3 separate regions of the Homo sapiens genome follow, and all the other regions are reported to be linked to region 1. The links are microRNA targets in miRTarBase. Many come from high-throughput screens and were not tested one by one. Region 1 holds a microRNA gene; each other region holds the end of a gene's coding sequence.

What was found. Region 1 holds the annotated microRNA hsa-miR-4633-5p (AUAUGCCUGGCUAGCUCCUC, at 2,125-2,144, opposite strand). A microRNA usually pairs through its seed, bases 2 to 8, with sites in the 3' UTR of a target mRNA and lowers its output. Matches are read on the target gene's strand: a 7mer-m8 pairs with bases 2 to 8, a 7mer-A1 pairs with bases 2 to 7 and ends in A, and an 8mer does both.
Region 2: miRTarBase lists ZNF417 as a target of hsa-miR-4633-5p. Seed matches in the 3' UTR shown: 7mer-m8 at 1,012-1,018.
Region 3: miRTarBase lists C18orf32 as a target of hsa-miR-4633-5p. The part of its 3' UTR that is shown has no 7-base or 8-base seed match.

Annotation. Positions count from the first base shown.
Region 1 is chr5:129,096,617-129,099,845 of GRCh38, reverse strand. It overlaps MIR4633 (microRNA 4633), which reads right to left and starts at 2,158; the gene lies at 2,080-2,158. The region is part of intron 1 of ISOC1 (isochorismatase domain containing 1); the gene reads right to left. LOC124901060 (a long non-coding RNA gene) reads left to right here and starts at 3,067. Exons shown (of 2, transcript XR_007058926.1): 1 at 3,067-3,229.
Region 2 is chr19:57,905,926-57,908,925 of GRCh38, forward strand. ZNF417 (zinc finger protein 417) reads right to left here. Exons shown (of 3, transcript NM_152475.3): 3 at 1-3,000. The coding sequence ends at 2,625. Among named protein-coding and RNA genes, the nearest start is that of ZNF417, 9.2 kb to the right of the region's middle.
Region 3 is chr18:49,479,526-49,482,525 of GRCh38, forward strand. C18orf32 (chromosome 18 open reading frame 32) reads right to left here. Exons shown (of 3, transcript NM_001035005.4): 3 at 1-2,885. The coding sequence ends at 2,820. RPL17-C18orf32 (RPL17-C18orf32 readthrough) reads right to left here. Exons shown (of 7, transcript NM_001199356.2): 7 at 1,653-2,885. Among named protein-coding and RNA genes, the nearest start is that of C18orf32, 6.2 kb to the right of the region's middle.

The DNA of each region.
Region 1 (3,229 bases):
AGGGGTATTTCAAGGATTAAATGGGCTTCATATAATCAATCAATAAATGTATTAGGCTATTCTGATGTCCCTCATATATTAAACACTACACTCTAAAACTTAGCATATGTTAAAAAACTTACCCTCTAATGAGGATAAATATTTACAATTAAGATCCCTTTAGAAACCTATAAATATATTTATAGGAATGCTAACATTGCATAACTTGTTATGTTAACATAATATGCAGAATAAGGAAAGTGAATCATAAAGTGATTTATAAAGTAGATTTCCAGATGTTACCAAGACCTTACCAAATCACTAAGACAAGATTGTTCCTGGAAAAACAGATCAGGGACTTTTTAATTTAGGCTGTGAAATAATACTTATTGGCTCTTATTTTTACAACATATTCACCTATTGTGAACATTGATGTCACTGGCATAAGGTTACAACCCTAGCTTATCAGTTAAGGTATGAGTTTTCTAAATCCCCAAGGGACGCCAGCTGTCTCCACCCACCCCAGGGGTGAGGACTGAAGGATTTCTTAAGACTGTGCCTCAGACTGGGGTGAAGGTGAAGCTAGACAAGCCCAGGACCACAATGACATTTGAATCTACATTGGGATTCCCTTGGTTAGCTAAATGCAAGAAAAAAAATTCAAAATTCAGATCATAGCTCCTACTCTCAAACACAGTTTATTTATAGGTAGCTCTAATGTATTCAGAAGGAGCAAAAAAGGATACAATGCTTTAGGTATTATTCTGGAATGTTAATTTTTTTTTAAGTGACACACATCAAACCAATGGGGTAGAGACAATACAACCACCTCAGGATCCAGCTGTCTCCTCTCTGAGCATTAGCTCATCTACCCCCTCTTCCTGCCACGCTCCTGAGGCAAAGGTTTTGTAATCAAAAACCACTACCTTCAAACTATCAAGCCAAAGGCGAACAAGGTTCCTTTCCTCCTGCCTTCCCTCCCTTCCCACCATGAACCTGTCAGTCTCTTCTAGCTATAAAATGTTCATGCCCCTGTTTAAAATAATAATAATAGTAATAAACTTCCAAGAAAATGAAAGCTGGAGCAAAATGCCCTGCCAGTTAACCATCTTGGGAAAAGGTCAAAATAACCTTCCCTGGAACGCCCTTATCTTCTGGCCACAGAAAGCTGCCAAAGCCTTCCCTGCTATGTACAGAAGTAAAATCCCCTCACTGGCATCCTTCTTACACTGTCCATTTCCTCCTCTCTTCTCTGCAGGCTCTGTCTTTCCTGGCCACAGGCTGGAAAATGCACTGGTGGTAGCATGATACAACATTTATGTAAATTTCCATAGTTAAATGTTTCCTTTACCTAAAACTTACAAAATACCTTTTGAAAAATTAAAACTTTTAAGTCATAAAAATGACGTAAATCCCCACTACATAATCCTCTCATTTATATTCTTTCCCGTGTCTCAAAATTCATCAGATCTCAAGCATTTGGCAAAGCTGCAGACATACAAACCAAGCATGAAACATGAGCTATGCCTTCATCTACCTGAGCTGTCGGCAGACATTGTTACTTTGACAGAATATTTAAGAAAAGAAGTCACCAAAAACTTACCACAGCCTAATACTGGCAATGGGGGGTCTTAAAGATCAGTTCTCATAGAACCACTAACAAGCACGGGTGCAGTGTGGCAAAGGCAGCCACTGTGTTTCACAAGGTCATCAGCCACAGCTGTCAGAATAAGCACGAAGGCAACTCATACCACGGCGCAAATGAAGAATACATTCTAGACTAACAGTACGTGAGCCAGGGCCACAGAGGCTCCAGGGCCCAAGTGTGGAGAAATAATAAATCACTATTTACGCAATGAACTACATGTGGCCAAACTTGTGCTCTTTGTCCCTGCCTTCAAGAAGGGGCCAACCATCCCCAGTAACATGGACTCACCGATAGGCCACCTTGAGTCTTCCTAAGTGACAAGCATTTATTCCAAAGAACAAGGAGCAGCACCAAGACAAATGAACAAACAAGAGCTCAAGTTTGTGACTTGTTTTCCAGACTGCTCAATTCTCATTAAACATGCAAGCAGTAGTGCTGTGTTCGGCTGTAAGTGACGCTCTGCATATGCCTGGCTAGCTCCTCCACACGCATTTGTGGAGGAGCTAGCCAGGCATATGCGGAGACTTGCCATGTAACCTGCAGCAAGTTACTCACCTCCACCTCCCTATGTTCTTCTGCACTTCCTCAAAGTGAAAGTTCATTTATTAGGTAAGGAACAAGAATTGAATCCAAGTTTGCATTCACTGTGCCAGGCATTTAAAGCTGCCACTCACATGTTGTGGAATGAACTGTATGGTCTCTTACAGCCATAAAACATCCAAGTCTCTAGGATTATGCTGTTAGGTTCCAAAGAATATAGTGTACAGTAGTCATGAGAAATATCATGACTTTCTGAGATTATACACACATATGCATATATATGTATGTGTGTATATATATCTCTCTCTTCTCATATAGACATAAATCGGTATCAGAAGGTATATACGATACACAGTGTGTGCATATTTATGTATCTATCCCCTTCCTTTATCTACCTCTAAGCTAGGAGAGGCATCAGGCTGAAGAAGTCAAAGTATAACTACTAAAATGAGATAATATAGAAGAGAAAATATTTTTAAAGAATTAAAAATATAAAGCTATATAAATGCAAAAATATAACTAATGCTTAAGAATTATTAGACTAGTTGGCGGAAAAATTTCTTCTGAAGAGGGAGTAGAGTAATGCTATTGTTATTTTAAACCTCACCAAAAAAAAGTGAACTATACATAATCTCCTATACCAAGCAAAACACTGCAAAAGCTACAGGTGACCAGAATTATATAACGCCTTTTGAGAATGTACAAGCGTTTTCAGGTACATACATTTCATTAATTTCTAGAATGTTTTTAAGAGTTGCCAGACCAAGGCCCTGAAATTTTCAAATATAAAAATCCTATCTTGGAAGGCGGGGACTCTTACAGAGCTGGGGCCTAGTTTAGAATAGCATTATCTTAGATAAGAGCCCAGCCTCCCTCCAAGCCGTAACAGGAAATGCTTCATAAAGAAGTCTGCATCCTTAGTCCCAGACCTCCGCAGTTAGTATTTGGATTCTAGCCTTTATAAATGGACTTCTCAAAGGTGCATCCAACATCTGAGTATTCTGGCAGCAGTAACGTAAAAGGACTGACAAGGAAGGCTGCAGAGAGGTGTCAGACACGAAA
Region 2 (3,000 bases), not on the chromosome of region 1:
ACTGAAAGTTTTGCCTATATAAACTGTAGTTTATGAAGAAAAAAGTTTTGTTTTTTTTGAGGCAGGGCCTTGCTCTTTTGCCCAGGCTAGAGTGCAGTGGTACCATCTCAGCTGATTGCAACCTCCATTTCCGAGGAAGGCTCCTTAATTTCCCAATTATAAAGGTTTTGTGGGAACATAATTGGGTGTAATAAAATAAAAATTTACACCACAAGAGACAGACACATACTCTTCAGGGTGTATGGTCATAATTTGTTTGAACGAGCCCTTTTAAACTTCTAGATATCATTGAAACTCCTATGTTGATTAAAAATCATCAAAGATCTTTCCAGTGAGAAGGATGAAAAATATTACTGAGAATGAAGTATCACTATTTCATGTATGTGCCTGTATGTGCTTATATAACATGCTGTAATACAAGGTGACATTTAGGGGCTGAGACTGTTAACATCTGACTGTACCTTGCTATTTGTAACTTACAATCTTATTCACATTTCTCAAGTGCCATGCCTTTAGGTGCCTATACATCATGCTATCATAGGATTTCTAGGGATAAGCCGAGTGCCGTGGCAGATGCCTGTAATCCCAGCACTTTAGGAGGCTGAGGGGGGTGGATCATGAGGTCACAAGTTTGAGACCAGCCTGGCTAACGTAGTGAAAGCCCATCTCTACTAAAAATACAAAAATTAGGTGGGCGTGGTGGAGGGAACCTATAGGCCCAGCTACTTGGGAGGCTGAGGCAAGAGAATCACTTGAACCTGGGAGGCGGAGGTTGCAGTGAGCCGAGACCATGCCATTGCACTTCAGCCTGGGTGACAGAGTGAGACTCTGTCTCAAAAAAAAAAAAAAAAAAAAATTTAGGGATAATATCTAAGCCCATATAACCTGCTGTTATAAAAGGTAACATTTAGGGATTGAGATTTTTTTTTTTTTTTTTTTTTTTTTTTGAGACGGAGTCTCGCTCTGTCACCAGGCTGGAGTGCAGTGGTGCAATCTCGGCTCACTGCAACCTATGCCTCCCAGGTTTAACGAATTCTCCTGCCTCAGCCTCCCAAGCAGCTGGGACTACAGGCACCCACCACTATGCTTGGGTAATTTTTGTATTTTTAGTAGAGACAGGGTTTCACCATATTGTCCAGGGTGGTCTTGAACTCCTGACCTTGTAAGCCACCCACCTCAGCCTCCCAAAGTGCTGGGATTACAGGCCTGAGCCAAAACACCCAGCTGAGATTCTTCATATAGCTGATTATCTTGCCATTTCTAACTTACAAGCTTTATCCACATTTCTTAACCTTTTGTTTCACTAAATGGGACAGGAAGTTTTAACTCTTGTATCCATGAAGCATCTTAGTAAAATAACAGATATTCCATTTGCAAATTATGCTCCCCAAAAAACACAAACACATATGTAAAAAATGTTATAAAGACATTAAGTGTCCACTCAATAACTTTGATTCAAACTATCTTCATGTTCTTCACTTCACAAGATAAAGCTCTTAAAATGGACTTTGTGAGGTTCCATGTGTTTGGTCAGTCATGAGAGGAAGAATAATTCAGAGTGAGAGGAAACAAGAGAGATTCTAGGCAGCCCTCAGGGAAGCTGAGGAGGTGGCTCCCTGCCTCCGGGTCCCTCAGAATGTCCCATCTCCCTGTCAGTATCAGTGTCCCAGATAATCTTCTTCTGACTGGGACATTTCCCAATTTGGGAACAGTGGTTACTTGCCAAATTCACATTTACGGCCAAAACTGTGGCTACAGTGTCGACATTCATGCAAGTGGGGAAATGGGCATGTGGCCCCTGAAAAAAGATTCTGGATTCCATAATCTCACCTTGCTGGCAAGAAACTACCATTTCAGCAGAAAGTGCAATGACAGTGTCTGCACAGGGACTGGAGATTATCTCCAGAAAAGAGCTTGGAGTGAGGAAATTAGTTAATGTGGATGAATGACGTTACCCATGGAGAATGAAGTAAGTAGCTAGAAGACAAAAGCCTCAGAACACATAAATCTCAACGGGTACTGAGTAGAGGACTCGGAGCTCTGAGGTAATTGGAGCTCATGGCTATCCCAGAACTTGGATAACATAAAGTTCTTGTTTCTACAAAGTGTGTATCCTTTCCATATGTGAGAACTCTGAGGAAATACAAACTTGGAACAAAAGAAATAGTAAGGTAATCTTAGAAAGATGTTGAATAGAAAGCAAGCTACGGTGACATCTTAACTGTTTCACTGCCCAGCAATCTATACGTATTGTCACTTGGGGACACTTATGATTCCACATGAAGTGGATAACCAGCTCATAGCTCTTGTGGTACTGAAAACCAAGTATTTGGCCGGGCATGGTGTGGTGTACTCGTAATCTCAGCTCCTTGGGAGGCTGAGGTAGGAGAATCACTTGAACCTGGGAGGCCCAAGTTGCAGTGAGCCAAGATTGCACCACTGCACTCCAGCCTGGGTGACAGAATGAGACTCCGTTCCAATGCGAAGTCTCTTAAGACCAAGGAGAGCAGACATTCTGATGTTTCCCAGATTGACAGCACTCATAAGGCCTTTCTCCAGTATGAACTCTCCTGTGTTTAATGAGACGGGATGTTTCAGCAAACGATTTCCCATATTCACTGCACTCATAAGGCCTTTCTCCTGTGTGAACTCTGATGATGAAGGAGGGTAGAGCTTCGCTGAAATGTTTTTCCACATTTGGTACATTCATAAGGCCTTTCTCCAGTGTGAATTCTCCTGTGTTTAATGAGACTGGAACATTCAGCAAAGGATTTTCCACATTCACTGCACTTATAAGGCTTTTGTCCAGAATGAACTCTTTTATGAACATGAAGCGCAGAGCTGGAAAGAAATGATTTCCCACATTCATTGCATTCATACGGCCTTTCTCCAGTGTGAATCCTCTGATGTATAGTCACGCAGTTCTTATTACCAAATAATTTCCCACATACCTCACACGCATATGGCCTTTCTCCAGTGTGAACTCTCTCATGAACGAGA
Region 3 (3,000 bases), not on the chromosome of region 1:
AAGCAGTAGCCCAGAGCCAGTAACAGAAATACCACCACCCCTGGGCCCAAAAGGGCAGGGTGAAGGACAGGTTAGGAAAAATAAAAGAAGTCAGGTGGAGTTGGCTGCCTGGAGTGTTCCTTGAGGCACAGTGACTTCTGGCTGAGGAACAGTTGGCCTGAGGTGACCTTGCAGAGAGAGGGCCAAGGGAATAAACACTCTGCCTTCATTCTCCTCCCTCCAGCCATCTCCTGCTATGGATCGCTATTGGCCAAACCCAGCAGAACCCAGAGACATGGGAAGTCTGTTGATGTCTATACAGCTTCCTTGGGCTGAAAGCAGGATGAGGGGAGCAGAGACTTGGGAGGGGCAAATGAAAGACACCTGGCACACTCATGCTATGAACACTGATGATGTAAGCAAAATTTACAAAAGCACTTGGGAGGATGTGTGGGAGGAGCAGAGGCAGTGTAAGATAGCGGCATCTCAACCATTATGGGAAACAATGTCTGAAGTTGATGGCTCAAAATATAACAGTATAGCCAGGCAGTGGCTCATGCCTGTAATCCCGACACTTTGGGAGGCTGAGGCAAGAGGATCACTTTGAGGCCAGGAGTTTGAGACTCGCTTGGGCAACAGAGCAAGACCCCGTCTCTACAAAAAATTAGCCAGGCGTGGTGGCACACACCTGTAGTCCTAGCAATTCAGGAGGCTGAGGTGGGAGGATCACTTGAGCCCAGGAGTTGGAGGCTGTAGTGAGCTATGATGATGCCGCTGCACTCCAGCACCTGGGTGACAGTGAGACCCTGTCTCAAAAAATAAAATGTTTATATTTTTATATTTTTATAATTTATTTATAAATATGGAGATAAATTTAAAAAGCCCACAGCTCAGTAGGTAAAACCTTTGAGGAGCAAAGAAGTAGGGACAATTAGAAACGTTGCAATATTACTTAATTTTTAAAAGATGATGTGTGGGCCAGGTGCAGTAGTAGCTCATGCCTGTAATCCCAGCACTTTGGGAAGCCAAAGTGGAGGATCGCTTGAGCCCAGGAGATCGAGATCAGCCCAGGCAACATGACGAAACCCTGTCTCTATAAAAAAAATTACAAAAAACATTAGCTGGGCATGGTGGTGTGCACCTGTAGTCCCAGCTACTTGAGAGGCTAAGGTGAGAGGATCACTTCAGGACTGCAGGTCGAGGCCATAGAGAGCCGTGATCATGCTGCTGCACTCCAGCTTGAGTGACAGAGTGAGACCCTGTCTCAAAAACATAAATAAATAAAAATGATGTGCATATTTAAGAACAAATTAATTTTCAAAAAGTTGCTAGAAGGTTACACACAAAATCAACTGGGGCGGACTCTGGATGCACTGCCTATGAATTAGCCTTGCTCCACAAGGAGCAGCACTGTTCAGGAAAAGACTACTGTCTAACAAAAACAAACCATACAACAACAACAACAAAAAAACAATTGGTTACCTCTGTGGAGCTGGAATAAGGGAATGAGAGTTGAGAAAAAACATTCGCTTTTCATTTAGGATCCTCTTGCATTGTTGTACTGTAAATATCTGTTATTTTTATAATAGTATTTATACCTTAAAAAAGTTTATTTGCTAATGAGAATTTATCTTATCCCTCAGGTGGCTTTGGACAGAAAAGCTGAGACCTGCTGATTTACATGATTTATATCAAATAAAGCCCAAGGTAAATCAGTGACTTGACCAGCCACAGAACTTAATAGAGCCTGAGTTAGGACCCAGACTTCATTAGGGACCCAAGGGCAGGAGTTCCTTTTAATCTTTCCCAGCTTCAGAGTGAATACAAAAAATATATAAGGATGCATCTCATCATCTTTGAATATTTATAGGTCCCTACACTGAATTTTCAAAGCCCAAGATAAAAATCACATAGCGGCCCAGGTCCAGACCCAGGCCCAGCCAGCCATATGAGTGAGCCCAGAACAGCAAAGAACTGCCCAGTCGAGTCACTGCTGCTGAAAACCACTAAATTTTGGAGTGTCTTGTTACGCAACAATAGTAATTGTTGTCCCACCACTACACAGATGCCATCACAACATCCAAATTCTGCCTTCTGACGTGGTGAAAAATTTCCCTTTTGAATATTTCAATAGACTTTAAAAGAAAATGAACTACCAGTTAAACTGAATGTTTAATACATTTGTAGGAACAGAAGAAATGCAGTAAGGATTAAAATTTTATAATTAGACATTAATGTAACAGATGTTTCATTTTTCAAAGAAGTTTCCCCCTTTTCCCTATCTTTTTTTAATCTTCCTTAGAGCAATAAATAGTAATTACTATATTTGTGGACAAGCTGCTCCACTGTGTTGGACAGTAATTATTAAATCTTTATGTTTCACATCATTATTACCTCCCAAAATTCTACCTTCATTTCCCTGCACAGTTTCACTGGACTGTTTCACAACAAAATTGTACTCCACTCAAATTAGAAGAGCCCAAAGAAATTAGAGCAAACAGCAAATTCATATGAATTAGAGAACCAAAGATTTTAAAGTGCTGATTTAGTAACATAATGTCTACTGGCACAAACCTTCTATTTAATCATATTATTCAAACAGCAATAACAGAAATGAAAGCTACATTAACGAAAAAGGAACTTAGGAATGAGGTCATTAAATATAACTAACTACATTTTAAATACGGATATCATATATTTCCTGATTAGTATCAGGTAAATATCTAGACTCCTATCCTGAATTCCGGTCTCAGATAAAAAGGTCAGAGACAATTACAAGGAAGATGCTTCATATTATCAGGTCCATTTTTTAAATGATGGGGTCCTTTAGGAAAATTTCTTTAGTCTTTCTTTTTATCACAGATTTCTGTTGGTCCTTTTGTTGGTAATCCATTCATGTCTGCACCCTAAAATGAAAAAACATTTTAGAAATTATCATAACAAGCCGGGTGCGGTGGCTTATGCCTGTAATCCCAGCACTTTGGGAGGCTGAGGCAGGCAGATCACGAGGTCAGAAGATCG